Linked DNA regions of Homo sapiens: regions 1 and 2 are each linked to region 3. The links come from fine-mapping of genetic effects on gene expression. A gene starts in region 3. Each other region holds a variant in brackets. All regions are shown on one strand. Distances are between the middles of the regions.

Region 1 (5,289 bases), 31 kb before region 3:
AATTTGCAGCAATAGAAGCTGCTTTGTGATTTCCCTTAAACTCAACCAAAATGGTTGGCATGGAGGTTTACACGTCAAAGCTAAGTGTTTCTATTTCCTTTCCTAGGACATATACTGGGATGAACCTCATCCAGACTCTCACACTCAAACTATGAGCCCTGTGAAGATTTCATATGCTAGGAAAGAATCGCTGTTGCTCTCTCTTAAAACCACAGACTTGAACACAACTTGATTTGAACAAAGGCCCTCCTCCCCACCTCCCTCCAGCTTCCCAACCCCCATCCCCTTCATCTGCCTTTCCCCCCAGCCACATTAACTACTCAGAAACACAGTCACTCCACTCTAGAGTTACTCAGGAATCACATTCTTAGAATAACTCATCAATTATACCTGTCAACTTGCCAAAAGTGCCACAGGGGAGGTGGAAAGTCTAGACTGCAATGAACTGCAGTGCCACAGCACCCCTGTTCACAGAAGGCCCCAACTTTGCAAATGCCTTTACAGGCTCACAAGAAACAAGAATCCAAGGAAATACAGGAGCACTGGGTTAGAATGCAGACACTATCACCAAGTTACTCTCAGGCTCAGGGTAGGGCATGGATCTCTCCATTTCTCTACTTGTAGGATAGGAAAACCTGCACAAGTCTGCTAACAGAATGTTCTGCCATACAAAGCCTGGGTTAGGAAACATTAAAAAGAAATGTCACTGTATTATTTAATATGCACACAAGCTCATCATCAATAAAAGCACTGCCAAGAAAGCAGCGCCATGACAGACATACTTTTAATTAATTGGCAAGGATCATTAGTAATTAGAACATTTATTGTATGCAAATGCTGCTGCTAACTCTGAAAAGTTTACTCTCTTAAGCAGGGTAAACATTCACATGAACCCGTTTGTGCTACTAATATAGTTACAGAGCTCCTTTTTTCATGGGTGAAAAGGTAAGTTTTCATTCAACTTAGCCCGAAATTATTTAGAATCCACATTATCAAAGATCTTAATTAATAAGGTTTTCCCTTGATTCCAAAATTTTTTGTGAACAGAACTCTTTTCCAGAAATATTTAACTGGGGGCCAGGAGCGGTGGCTGACGCCTGTAATCCCAGCACTTTGGGAAGCTGAGGCAGGCAGATCACTTGAGGCCAGGAGTTCCAGACCATCCTGGCCAACATGGTGAAACCCCGTCTCTACGAAAAATACAAAAATTAGCTGGGCATGGTGACACATGCCTGTAGTCCCAGCTACTTGGGAGGCTGAGGCAGGAGAATCGCTTGAACCTGGGAGGCAGAGGATGCAGTGAGCCAAGATCATGTCACTGCACTCCAGCCTGGCAACAGAGCAAGACTCCATCTCAAAAAAAAAAAAAAAAAAATTAGCCAAGTGTGGTGGCACACGCCTGTAGTCCCAGCTACTCACGAGGCTGAAGAAGGAGAATCACTTGAGCCCAGGAAGCGGAGGTTGCAGTGAGCCGAGATCGCACCACTGCCCTCCAGCCTGGGTGACAGAGTAAGATCTTGTCTCAAACAAACAAACAAAAACCTCAATAAATGTCTGGAAGGGTAATCATGCAGTCAGAGATTTTTTTTTTAATATCCTGAATCTTCAACATCCCTGTAGAGCAGACTTTGCTCTTTATTTGGTTTACAGTTTAACAAATCCTTAGATCAATGCCCTGTTTACCCCAACAGACTAAACTCCCAATTGCTCTAACCATCCAAGCTTCCAAGGGCTAGGTAAAAGCATACACTTTTGGGAGTCATATATAGTCCACTATGATTCTGAAGATTTAGGGGAGGAAAAGGCAATAGATCTCCTGGTCACAATGCCAAGTAAGATTTCACACTGTTGTCCTCCTCATTAAGGCTCACCAAAAACGGCACCTCTCAACTTAACTTCCTCCTCGTCAGTTTAGGCCCCATTATTCACTTCCCACAGAGCAGCTTGTTTACCTGAAGCACAGGGGGGCGGCGGCGATTGGGAAGAAGCAAGCAGTGCAAGTGAGCAAGTCCAGAGCACAAAGAAAACAAGGAGCATGCAGGAGAGCCCTGTGGTAGCTCCTAATGAGGCTGGGACAATCAAGAAAGTGTTCCCCTTTTGGCTCCTCCCTTTCCAGTTGCGCTGGCCAAGGTATTTCTTCTATCTGCTCCCTGACCCCCAGCTTTTTTTTTTTTCAACACAGGGTCTCGCTCTGTTGCCCAGGCTGGAGCACAGCAGCACGATCACGGCTCACTGCAGCCTTGACCTCCCAGGCTCAGCAATCTTCCCACCTCAGCCTCCCGAGTAGCTGGGACTAGAGGCATGTGCCACCACACCTGGATGTCTTATTATTATTACTATTTGTAGAAACAGGATCTCACTATGTTGCCCAGGCTGGTCTTGAAATCCTAGGCTCAAGCCATGTCTCACCTCAGCCTCCCAAAATGTTGGGATGAAAGACATGAGCCACCGCACCTGGCCTTTCTTATCAGCCTTTTTACGGGAGGCTCCGTGTGAGCATTAAGATATTTATTTTTCTCTGACAAACAAGAGCACCACAACAGGAACAGAAATCTAATTCAACTTCAATCACTGGATCACTATAAGACCTTGGAAAAGTCACTTCACCTTCCTCCCCAGCAATTCAATCTTAGGAACAGGAATCAGAAAAGTATTTGTCAGTCTCCTTCCCCATGGTGACAGGTGGATAATATCTCCTCCACCCTAAATACCTCGCAGGGATGGAGAAGGATGGATGAGCAGGCATTACAGCCAATATTCTACTCTCTGGCAATAAACAACTCACCTTTTGGAGGTAAACGGTCTCTTTCCAGGGCACCAGGGGATCATTTAGCACTCTGGAAGAAGTAATTTGCTCTATGGTTCTCTGGTGTCCTGAAAAGTGTAATCCACCTCCAAAAGGTGAACCCTTATATCCCAGAGAATTTGTTTTCTCTGGGATCAGAACGCTTTAATGTTTTCAGTTTCAGGAAAAGACACCACAGGTATCATTTTCTGGTCAAGAGAAGACTCTTCCCTCTCCCCGCCCCCTCTCCTTACTGATCATCCCATACTCTCTTCCCCTCAAACAGAAACCAGATGAAACCATCTGCAAACAACTTGGGAATGCTG[T/A]GTGTGTGCCTGCAGAAACTTAAACAAAAATCCTTTCTCAGCCGCGCCCCCCTCCTCCTTCCAGTGGTTGTTAAGGGCCCGGCGAGTTAATGGGAACTTTTCTCCTCTCCCCTCCCTCCCCCACTGCCCCTCTCCCGCCTGGGTCCTCAGCATTTGATTCCTGTCTGTCACTGAGTGATGAGGACAAAGGGTGAGGAGTCAGGAAAAGGTCTGCGCCACTTTGTTCAGAGTCTGGATTCGAACTTTGGATGAACCCTTCATCGGGGAGGGGGCTGGGGAGGAGGGGAGAGGCCGGCAAGGAGAAATCCGCTGCTGTTCTCGCCGCTGGAGCCTCAAAAAAGAGAGAAAGATTCTCTTTAAACAACAGAAAGGAAAAAAGAGGGTTAGGAGGGTAGAAACAGCCTCCCTCAGCCCAGTTAGGAAAAGGAGGGCATGGTGGGGGCGGAGGGATAAAGGGGGCTGAGCTTAAGAAAACAGAAGGCCGGGGCAACGCGCTCAAACAAGGCTGTTGGGCCCATGCTGTGGGCGGCCAGCCAAGAGCTAGTTTTGTTTCTTCCCCCTCCAGCCTCTCTCTCTCTCCCTCTTATTTTTTTTCCCCCTAAACCAAAGGGAATTCCTAATAAAGCCACAGCAGACTTGTAGAGAGCAAGGGAAAGGAAGAAGGAACCAGAGGTGGGGAAAAAAACAGATGAAACTCATTGCTTTCTGGAAGTCCAGAATAAAGAATATATATGCATATAAAATTATAGCACACTTCACCATATGCTTCGAAACTAAAAAAAAAAAAAAAAAAAAAAAAAAAGCTTAGTCCGGAGTGTATTTCTCTTTTCTCTTTTTCCTCATCTCTGTGTGTGTGTGCACTTACATATACTGGCTGGCAACTTTTACCGTGTGATTTTTTTTCCCCAAATCCTGTACTGTAGTTTTTAAAAAGCACTATTAACATACAGTTGAAGTCACAGCAAAAGCCAGTTTGTCTTCTTTGTGCTCAATAAAACCCAGCTGAAACTCTTTCACCTCCCCTTACTATTGATTTTTCTATTGTGCTCTACAGGCGGGTGTATCTCACTCACTCATCAGACTGCCTTTCATTCTGTGAACCTCTCTGACCGCATCTGGATGTGAGGTTTTTCAGCTCCCTGCGATGGGTATCCTTGCTTCATTCAATCATTTGGGGCCCGCATGCAACCATGCAGTCACTTTTGGTTTGGCCTCTGTCCTTTGGTCTTTGCCCCAGACTCTGGATTTCACTTCCAAAAAGATCAGGTGTCTATCCCAGCACAGAAGATGAGAGGTGACAAGGCATCCTTGCATCCTAGGGCTCTTTCTCTTCTCTTCTTGCATATAAAAATGGGACTTCAGTGACTGTGCAGGAGATTCAGAAAAGGGGTGGGGGATGAGAAGGAGGATCAGGGAGGAGTGTACTGCTGCAACATCTGGCACCTGTTCTACCTCTCCTGGGGACACCCCCTGGTGTGGCGCGTGTGAGGCTGTATGTGCCGGACTGCTGCAAGTGAGAACTCTGTGTCTGTGTGTGCCTCATCCGCACAAAACGATGTGAAGAAGAGAAGCAGATGGGTCAACAGGATGACTATTCATTAATCTTCTGAGAAACTGGGTTAGGAAGTGAATCCGTGTATTTAAAACTTCTCATTTTGCATTCCTATGAATGGGAGAATAAACTCTACACTTTGAATAAGAGTGCATGACATCCTTACTCTTAAAAAAAAAAATCAGACACACAAAGATCATCAGCTAACAACAAAGAGGCAGATAAAGTGCTGGGTGAGTATACACAATACAAAAAGGGCTCCTCACCCGACAAAAGGGAGTGCTAGAAGCATAGACCTGAAAGGGATCTTATTAATCATTCATATCTAACCCCTTCACTTAGAGATGAGACAGCCAAGACCCCCAATGTGTAAGCAACTTACCAAGTCACCACAACACTCTCCACAACACTCCCCTCTGGTGTTCCTTCTGTCATATACATTGCTTCCATGAAACTAAGGAATGGACTTAAGTTTAGGATAAGGATTACCAAAATCACACCCATACACTTTTTAGGAACACATCTACATAAAAGTGAAAGATAGCAGTACATCTTACCTGAAGATACAGCAGTAGTTGTAGCATCCTACATCCCAGTTATGTAAAACCGGGAATGAGAAACAGGGA
Region 2 (5,289 bases), 200 kb before region 3:
TTGGGAATTTGGATTCTTTTTTCCTCCAGAAATAATGTTTTGACAGTAAGAAGCCCTATCTACTGAGGTCATATACGGCATTTAGGTTCCCTGACCACTGGCCACCAAATAACCAAGGAATTGATCCTATAAATCTCCACAATCCTATAAACCATTCTATTAAAGTTTAAGTAGGAAGTAACACCAAGGGGGAATGTGAATTTAGTAGCCTGGAGCACACAGATTAATCTTTATGAATTTATTTCAGAGTTTGTGGTCACTCTTGTCTCCACAGATTGCTCACCATGGCATGATTGGAGTCAGTCCCTTTTCAGTGTTGCTGTTGCTTGGGAAGTACATCACCTCCTCTTTGGATGTGCCTTGCTGCAAATGTGTACAATTACACCCAATACAGCAAACATTTATTAATACGATCAAGATTTGCCTTTGCCCTCAGCCAGATTCTCTAGTATAACATGACACCTATGTTCCAAATCAGATCTAGACAATTAAAATGACTCCTCGGTCTATCTTTCTTGGTTAGGGAAAATCTGTAGGCTGTAGCTAAACCCAAGTGCAGTGACATTTCAGAAACTTGCCCCGTTTCTAAGAGCTGGAACATTTTTACCCAGCTACATGTCCAAGACTCCCTTGTAACTAAATGTAGTCGTAATACTAAGTCCTAACTGATGGGATACAAGTGGTAGTACAAGTATTATGCTAGAAAGTCTTTTTTAAAAGGAATAAGTCTACAGTTATTCTCTGCCCCTTCCTCCATTCTGATGCCTGGAATGCAGATGGAATGGCTGGAGCTCTAGCAGTCAACTTAGATCACGAGGATGACACAGGATCACCTTTTAGGGAAGACTGAGTGAAAACTCAGGAAGGAGCCTAAGTTTTTTGTGGTCTATGGAGCCACTCTGCCAGCCCTGAACTGCTTATATCTTACTTCCTATGTTTTGAAAGGGGGTGGATGTGGTTTCAGCTACTCACATTTGAACCTAATCCTAATACATTCACATTGGACTTGAATTGTGATTTTGACTGTTTAACCTCTCTGGGTTTGTTTTCACATTTGTAAACTAAGAAAAATAAAAGCTATCCCTTTAGAATTATCATGATATCAAAATCGAGATAATATACATGAAAAGTACTTGGTACACTGGAAATTATTATACCAATATTAGTACAGCTGCTATTATTTTTCAGTTTATTACAAATTTCCAAAGAAAAGTAGGTCAATGATTGACAAATGAAAACTAGCTGAAAATAAGAACTCCAATTTCATTATTCTGGCAAGATTTGATATTAGCAGAAAATGAGTTCAAGATAATTAATTGTAAGAAAGTGACCACAGGTTATTAAACATTTCTAATTGTTGTGTTCCTAGAAAATTTGCTACAAAGATGTTCTTTTAACTACTTGAAAAATATGGAATAATAGCATTTCTAACTCCATTTAGGTTCCAAATTGCTCAACGAATATCATTTAGATATCAGAAGCTGAGCCAGAAATCAAGATAGACAGAGACACATGGAGGAATGGACCTACTGCACACTGCAGACCCAGATAACTAATTACCAGGTTGGTTCCAGAAGGTGGGTTATCATAAGCTGATATGAAAATGAAGCACACTTTATATTTTTTAAAGTATGTCAAATTGCTGAAAGACTTGGCTCTATGTTTTAGGTTAATTTTCACTGTTATCTCTAAGGGTAGGTAGGATCACATTTAACATAGTAGGAAAAACAAGTGAGATGCTGGGCTGAGGACTGTTGCAAATTGCATCGGAAAAGAACAGAGTTCCCTAAACTATGCTGCTTCTGCCAACCTGTATTGACCTAGGGCATCAGAGCTCTTACTGTAACATTCCAACACTTTGTCTTTTAAGCTGGCAATTTCTCTGTAGGACACTTTATTCTTCATCTTAATGACTTAAACTTATAGAACCATGGGAGGCTAGGAGATACTATCAATTTATATTCTATTTAACTTTACAAGGGCAGGTCATCAAAATAAGGGTGAAACAATGTTGAGCCCACAGGTGTCACACTGCAAAGCTGGTTTCCAACAGTACGTGAGGAACAAAGTGAAATTAAAAAATATATATATTGATCTTCTTGGAGCGCCCATGTAATCTAATACAATATCAATTAATCTTAGAGAATATAGTTGGTTCATCCCCCCTTCTTTGACATTACTGGTAGATATTTGAATTAGTCACCCTTCTAAGAGTATCTATAGTACTGTATTTGCCCAACACTTAGTGATCATAAATTTGAGGTTGAAGGAAAAAAATCCCTCACACTGATCCAAATAAAGGTATAGCCTGAACTAAATAGCAAGCTTTACAATTTGCTAAAATGACCATAAGAATAATGTCCCAATGGGCCGGGCGCGGTGGCTCACGCCTGTAATCCCAGCACTTTGGGAGGCCGAGACGGG[C/T]GGATCATGAGGTCAGGAGATCGAGACCATCCTGGCTAACACGGTGAAACCCCGTCTCTACTAAAAATACAAAAATTAGCCGGGCATGGTGGCGCGCACCTGTAGTCCCAGCTACACGGGAGGCTGAGGCAGGAGAATGGCGTGAACCTGGGAGGCGGAGCTTGCAGTGAGTCGAGATCGCGCCACTGCACTCCAGCCTGGGCGACAGAGCGAAACTCCGTCTCAAAAAAAAAAAAGAATAATGTCCCAATGAAAGACGATGTTTAATGTTTATTTTTTAGAATGTCCAAAAACATACCAAACCCAAAGCCTTTTGGCATGTGTGTACACACACCCTCCTCCACACAAACACATTTAAAATACTACTAGTGTCTAATAAATATGTGCATGTAAGATTATACTCATAAATTTGCATAATTTGCTCTACATGTGTGTTCTATTTTTATATATTGATTTAGTGAGCTGAGCAGACACATCTTACTGTGAGGAAAAATCCTTTTCCCTGACCACCAATGTGTCCCTAAGTAGTGTGATGTGAGGGGACAGTACTTTTAAGGGTATGGAGGAGGGAAGTGGTTTTACTCAAGATTCTTGAATAAATCATGCAGTCACTGCTAAGAATTGATGAGAAATAGACACCAAAAAGAAAAAGATGGGTGGGGGCAGGCAGACAGAGGTTGCTTATACTTTTAGAATACAGCCTTATTCCAAGTGAGAGGAAAGAAAGTATCCAAAAATAACAACAATGATTATACATTTGGCTCCAAACGTGAGTGCAAACCAAGTACTCTAAGGAGCAATCTAATTGGGAAATGTCCGAGGTGAAAAAGAGGCAGTTTGAGAAATTCTTACCCATCAAGCTTTATTGTGTTATTCCAACTAAGCAGAGACAAAAAGACAAATCTCAGCTCCCTACTTTCATTTATAATTGAACCAGGTCCAGAAGGATGAAGCAAGTACCATCTGTAACGCATGCTGCATTAGCAGCCGGGAGAATGAAATATTCAAATTACTCTAGGCCACCTCACATAATGACAGGGCTACAAAAACTGACTTGCAACCACAGACGAGAGAAGAAGAAAAGAAAGTTGTAAAATTTTGTTTTGTTTTTTATTGTTGTTGTTTTGGGGGGCAGGAGTTAACCAAACAAAGTGTTATTCTTAAAGAGAGTGAATATATAACAAAATATGTTTTAAAAAATCCGAAGGAAGGAAGGAGGGAAAGAAGGAGAGAAGGAGGAAGGAAGGGAAGGGAGGGAGGGAGGGAGGAGGGATGGAAGGAGGAAAGGAGGGAGCAAAGAAGGGTGGGAGGGAGGAAGGGAGGGAAATGCCATCCCAAACTTCCTCAACTTGGAAACCTTCCCACTTTAGATACAGGATCCTGTTGTTCTCATATTTTGCTTCATATAAATAAGGGGCACTATTTTGGAGAGGGTGGAGATGGAGCTGCTCATTCTGATTCGGTTAATCAGGGCTGCTGAATGTGTGACATGGTAAGTGGCTCCAGCCCCGAGCAGTAGTCAAGACGGAGTGACAGGCTCCATTTAAGATGTCATTGCACATAATAAAGTGTAAAACTATACTTAAAATAAACGAGATAGAAACAATAAACTTGACTCAGTATTTGAACTTTTACAGACACACGGAGACTGGAGGAGAAAGCACGTGTGGCTGCGTGCTTGGGGACTTTGAAGAGGCCACTACCTCTACAGAGCTTTACAACTGTGGTTTTTAGGGGGATCTAGTCGGGCTCCATGTGGAGGTCAAGCAGTCATATCTTACTGTGTGAACTGGGCATCTGATTAGCTCATGGCCAAAACCTCCTAAGGAGTCAGGAGCACAGGCCATAACCAAGGGCCAGGCCTGGAGGCACAGGTCTTCCCTGAGAGTGCCCCAAAGAGTAATTTTGTACTCCTTACGTGTCCTGACTCCAGAAGTGTCTCCCAGTTCCAGCTCTCCATGTCCCCGATTGTCCACCTGTGCCAGGGTTGCCTCGCTGCAGCTTGGCTTCACCACTTCAGAAGGTTTAACACAATATTGTCAAGGCTGGTTGGCCCCAAATTGGAATGATACTTTCTTTCCCCCTCTAGGCCCTGCAATTACTGTTACATGTAGGGGTGGATTCAATGTCAAAGCAAATGTTTTCCTTATGTTTCTTTCTTTAAAAAAAGAAAAAAGAAATCATAAATGGGAGCTAGCACATGAAGCTCCTGAACCAGCCACCCAGGATTCTGTGTCACCCGGGGTGCAAGGAGTCTTGGCTTCCTTGGGCATTAGATTTAGGGGCCTCCACTCAGAAGGTGACCCACCCCCTGGGAATCTATGTTAATGGCATACATAAGGGCAGAGCTTGGAATGAGCCATTCTTTCCCCTGCAGTCACAGCATGTTACTGGAATGGGGGTTGAGCCAAATAATGATCCTAATCGTTGCCTGTATATTGGTTTCTTCACCCACCTTCCACCCTCACCTGCAAAAAGATTGTTAAGGTACTTGAGAACCGACACTATCCTTTAAAGGCATATTTTTTTAGATAGTAGGATAAACTATATTAAGTAGAAATACATACATTACAGCTGTACAGTGAATTTTTGTATAGTGCATGCAGCCCAGTCTCCAGAAGTGGGATCAAGAGAGTATTATGAGCAGCACACAGAAGCCCCAGCCAAACCCTTTACAGTTACTATCTCCAAGGGTAGCCAGTCTCTTGATTCCTTTAAGCAGAGATTTGTTTTTCCTGCCTTTGCTTGCCTTAATTTTCCCTTACCTTTATCACTCCCACTGGATCCTGGAACTTCCATGCATTTAGTAATTCAGCAAGTATTTAGTGAGTACCTACTATGTGCCAGACACGATGCTAGGTGAGC
Region 3 (5,289 bases):
ATAATAAAATTCAAAGAGAGCACCAATTAATTTTTAAAATTTCCCCTATTTAAACAAAACTTAGGATACTTTGAGTCTTTCAACATTTCCAAGTTTTCAAACACCCGTAAACCTTAGTACTTTTGAGTTTACATGTTGCATGTGCTTGCAGCTAAAATTGAGTATAATTCATAACATCTATGTTTTTAACTGCTTCCTCTCATTTTCTCAACTCAGATTCTTATTTCACGTAGACAGAAATACACATAATGATGTCTTCTCCATATAACCAAGTCATCTGAAGTATAGGAGTTGCGTATATTTGTTTACAGGGTTTTCAAAGAGAAAAACGCTACTTCGGAGATATAACAAAGCTGGGTAATTGTACAGACATATGTGGTCATTAGATTTTTAAAATTCTTCCTTTTGAGTTCGGCCTTGGGCAAGCTGTTAGCGGGTTGTCACTTAGTCTATGTTTTACTTTAAAAGAGAATTTACTGTAAAATCCTGAAGTAGAGAACCATATACCTGGCAGTGGATTAACTTGAGAGGCTACACAGTTTATTATGTTTCCTTAATGAAGACCTTCATGTCCTATAGTACTGAAATATATAAAATTCATAAATGCTTTCATTTCTAAGTGGTCCTGAAAGAAGCATGGGGGAAAAGAGCATGCTTGATTTTTGTCCCCCCACCCCTTTTTAAAGGACCCTACATAGCTGTCTGTGTCACGGAAGGTTAGTAAACCGGCTGAAATTAGGAGACAATAAAGTTAAACTAAAAATCTGAGTCTCTTAAAACTAACAAATATGCCTAAAAACAAAATCACCTTTTCATCAACTTTTTAAAAAAACAAAATTAAGTGAATGCAAAATATTTTCTGGATAGCTGACAAGTACTGACAAAGAAATACCCTGCTTTTTTGTTGTTTTGTATTTTGGGTAGGGGGGGAAGAAAGGAGAAAAGATAAAAATTAATTTTGGACGGGAGAGTCAAGAAAGAAAATCAAACTCGCTGAATTAGGTAAGGAGTCAACTAAATTTGCAAATAAAGTGTTCTTGGGACATTTTATTTCGTAATGTTACAGAGTCCCCTCAACAAGAAGGCATGGAATGCTGTTCAAAACTTGACAATTCTGCTTTCTCTGATACTTTTTTAAAGCAGTAAAAAGTGCCGAGGGCCGCTTTTGGATCAGTTGGCAGTATTTTCGGCATGCCTGTGTGTTTGTGTGGATATAAATGAATACCCCTATATTCACACACACACACACAAATATGTACACAGCCACATCTCGGCATGGGCGATTACACTTTCGATAACAACGCTCCTTCAAATTTTACTCCTCCGCCATGTAGTTGCTTGTCAAAATGAGAAAAGAAATAACATTTTTCAAAAAAAGCGCTGTGGTGATTCGGTTCCCATTGTTTCCCCCTGCAAGAGGAAGAAAAACAAAAAACCCCAAGAAAGGAAAAGAAAAGCCTCCATCTCACCTGGCCTGCGCCTCATCCAAACTCTGGTCTGTGATGGTCATAATTTGCTGTAAAATGTCTCCAATGTCCTGCTTCCTCCCGCCCTCCCCCTCGGTCCCTCCGGCCCCATCCTGCAAGTGCTGGGACAGGCCGGGGTGTCCGGCCATCCCGACCCCAGCATGGGAATGCATCAGCCTGGGCTGCTCGTCCATCTCCAAAGGCTACGGCAGCCCCCGGCTCTTCCTCTTCTGCTCCTCGGCTCGGCTCCTGGGAAGCACCAAGGCTTTTTATCCTTCAAGCTTGTCTTCAAATCCTTTTCAGGATAAACAGGGAAGGGGGAAAAAAGAAGACCAAAAGAAAAAAAAAATCCCTTTGCCTCTTTAGAGGATGGTGGGAGGATGAGGAGGGGGAGGGGGAGGGGGCGTGAAGGGGTTGCGGGGTGAGGGTGGGGATAAGGGCTGGTGGGGAAGGGTGTTGACTCCAAAAAGCAAGAAAAATAAACCACCTTCCCACTTGGCGAAAAGAAATCAGAGCTGGCTTTAGGTTTTTCAGTCCGGTCTCCTTTGCAAGGCAGAAATGGGCTCCCGGCGCTTAAATCTGTGGCTTAATCCTTTTGCAAATATGCATTGATCGGGAGAAAGGAGAGGAAGGCAGGGGGATTGCAATGCAAACTTTCCCCCCCCACCCCCCGCTGCCCCCCACCCCCACTCCGGGCCAGAGTGATCTCAAAGGGGGTGGGCTGTTGCAAAAGCCAGATCTCCCCCAGCCGCGGCGGCAGGCAAAGCACAGGCTCTCTCCTCCTCCGTGTCTCTGCAAACTCCAGCAGCCCCGTCAGCCTCCTGCTTTTGTTTAGCTCAGGCTCAGGACTCCAGAAACATATACAGAAAAACCACAGCCTGAGAGGAGGAGGAGGAGGAGGAGAAGAAGGAGGAGGAGGACGAGAAGGAGGAGAGGGGAGGGGGCAAAGGGAAGGGGAGGGGGCGGGGAAGCCGGGAGGCTGGGGAGAGGAGGAGGGAGGAGGGCGCCTGGAGCTCCTCCCCGCTTCCCTGATTGGCCACCAGATAAAGGACCGGCCCCCTCCTCCCCTACTTTCCTCACGGCGCCTCCTCTCCAGCCTCCTTCAGCTCCTCCTCGCCCGGCGCCCTGTCAATCAGAGTTCAGAGGTGGGCCGGGAAGGAGGCCGAGCTAATAGCAAGTCTCCAGTCCTTAAAGGTGCAATGGTACTGTAGTTCCAGCTCACTTAGTTTCCACTTTCCCTGCTCGCCTTACTTAGGTTGCGTCCTTGAGGAAAATGTGGCTCCACTTAAATGCAAACATATAAAATTAACACGAAAGAACACAGACGGTGTGCGTCTTCCCGCCCACCCCTGCTTTTCTTTTGCTGTGGCATTGTCATTTAAAACTTGATTCTTTTAAATGCTTAGACCTCAGGGAAACTGCTGAGAGCACAAGTTTGTCAGCACGACGTAGTTATGAAACACAATCGAGCTGTTAATATAATTAATAAAGATCTCTAATAAGTGGCAGATGTAATAATAGATACATTTAAAAAAACAATTCTAGCACAGTAAAGGTGAAAAGAATACCAAACTGTGTCATTTTTGCTGCATGAAAACTAAATTATGGACTATGAAACTGAAAAATGCTCAAGAAAAAGAAAGATTAATAAATAAGTTCACCAAATGAAACTAATTCAACATTTCTCTCTCTTCCCCCGGGGGAAATTAGTTATTTGGCTTAAATACCTAATAAAGAAATGCATTATCACAGTCTAGTTCTAGTTTTTAATATAGTCTAATAAGCATTATTAACTGGGAAGAGAAGTGAACTGACATTTATTGAATGCCTACTATGCACCAAGTAATTTGCATGAGTTATTTTATTTAATCCCCAAGACATCTTTGTGAGTTATGGATTATTATTTCCATTTTACAGAGAGGGAACTCAGAAAGGTTAAATAATTTGTCCAAGGTCCACAGTTATTAAGTGTCAAAGCTGGAATTTAAACCCAAGTGTGACTCCCTCCAAAGGCCTAGTATTTCCACTGCACAATCTGCTTCAGTCTAACAGAAATGTGTGAATAGTGTTAAAAATTAGTTATGTGTCTATTGCCTGTCCAGTTTGAAAGGAAACTTGAGGTGCTTAAAAGGGTACATATTCCAACAAGACAACTCCAATTGAAAATGGGTAGGAAAAAATAAAAAATAAATACAATGGGATCAAGAAAAAAGCCAACAAAAGTCATAACTAAGGTCCAGTATCATAGCTCCAGACAGACACAAATTTGCTTCCAATCTTTTCATTGGGCAAAGTGAGAGGGAAAAATCTGACTGTGTACACAGTCACAATGAATATAAGATAAAATAGCAGGCCAATTACTTAGGAAATGTCCAGAATATTTTGTAATATAAAATATTCTATTGTGTAGCCAGCCCTCTTCCTGGATGGCAGTATAGCAAAGGAAATGCAAAGCGCAGTGTAACCAATCTGCAAGCGCAGTGTAACCAATCTGCAAAATGGAAAGCAGCCTTGCCAGGTGCTTCGAGATCCTCAAATAAAATGTTATTCTTCTCACCAATCATTACGCAAAACAAGTTTGGCAAGATAAGGAGCACTGATGCAAGCATTTCAAAGCAGTTTTTAGCAAGCTACTTGGCACTTATTGGTATGAGGGCATGCAATACAGAGTATTAATTGTAATTATGATGTTATATTACTTAATAACAATTGTTTTATTCACATACATATCCTGATTTTTAAACTGTTTTTTTAAAAATTAACACTAATCAAAAGTTGAGCACAAAACTATATACTCAAATCACATATCAATCACAGTGATTGAGAGTTAGCATATCCCTTACAGAGACGAAGTTACCACATTTTAAAGCATGAAAAGAAGTCAACCTAGAGTCTATAAGAAATCAGTTTGTGAGTAATTAATTCTAATTGCAAACCTAATAAAATCTTTCTAGGCAAAGTACTGGAAAAGGTACCATCAATTCCAGAAGATCATTGTCATCTAGGAACATTTTAGTAGGGAAATAAGATGTGTATACACAATGATACTAAAAATAGGTAATATTTATTGACTCCATACTATAATTAAGTATTATATTCAAGGTGTTTTGTTAATTTAATCATTGCAACTGTCTTACCCCGATAGCTATGCTTTTAACCATTACTCTAGAGTGTTGCCCAGATATATTTCAATACATAATAAATGCTATAGAAGTGATAACAAGCCCTTAGACATCCTATAAGAGATGAGAGAAGGGAGTAACCAGTTCGAGTGAATAGAAGGCTTCGCGGTGGATCTAAAGGATGAACTGGATCTGGAGGGCTAGGTTAATGAACTTGACGGAAGTACAGGCTATCTCTTCAGGCACAATGGAAATGTTATTAGGTGTGATTGGGAAGACTTTTTTTTTTGAAACAGAGTCTCACTCTGTGACTCAGGCTGGAGTGCAGTCGAGCGATCTCAGCTCACTGCAACCTCCACCCTCTGGGTTCAAGTGATTCTCCTGCCTCAGCCTCCCAAGTAGCTGGGACTACAGGCACCCGCCACCAGGCCTGGCAATTTTTTTTTTTTTTTTTTTTTTTTTTTTAGTAGAGGTGGGGTTTCACTGTATTGGCCAGACTGGTCTCAAACTCCTGACCTCGTGATCCACCTGCCTTGGCCTCCCAAAGTGCTGGGATTAAAGGAGTGAGCCACCGCGCCCAACTGGAAAGACTTTTAACAGAAACATTTGTGTTTTATTTGATGGACATTAGGGATACACTGAGGTAAGTTGTTTCTTTCTTTCACAGATAGGAACAGAAGAGCATGTTTCGGGAAGAATTA

What was found.
Region 1: its variant is fine-mapped to the expression of PBX1 in lung (TOPMed, PIP above 0.99).
Region 2: its variant is fine-mapped to the expression of PBX1 in whole blood (INTERVAL, PIP above 0.99).

Annotation. Positions count from the first base shown.
Region 1 is chr1:164,587,098-164,592,386 of GRCh38, reverse strand. The region is part of intron 2 of PBX1 (PBX homeobox 1); the gene reads right to left. Among named protein-coding and RNA genes, the nearest start is that of PBX1, 31 kb to the right of the region's middle. RefSeq lists an enhancer at 787-1,754. The variant T/A (reference allele first, on the strand shown) is at 3,112.
Region 2 is chr1:164,758,822-164,764,110 of GRCh38, reverse strand. The region is part of intron 2 of PBX1 (PBX homeobox 1); the gene reads right to left. Among named protein-coding and RNA genes, the nearest start is that of PBX1-AS1, 13 kb to the left of the region's middle. RefSeq lists enhancers at 3,822-4,321, 4,322-4,823. The variant C/T (reference allele first, on the strand shown) is at 2,425.
Region 3 is chr1:164,556,194-164,561,482 of GRCh38, reverse strand. PBX1 (PBX homeobox 1) reads right to left here and starts at 2,299. Exons shown (of 9, transcript NM_002585.4): 1 at 1,470-2,299. The coding sequence starts at 1,660. RefSeq lists an enhancer at 2,218-2,717.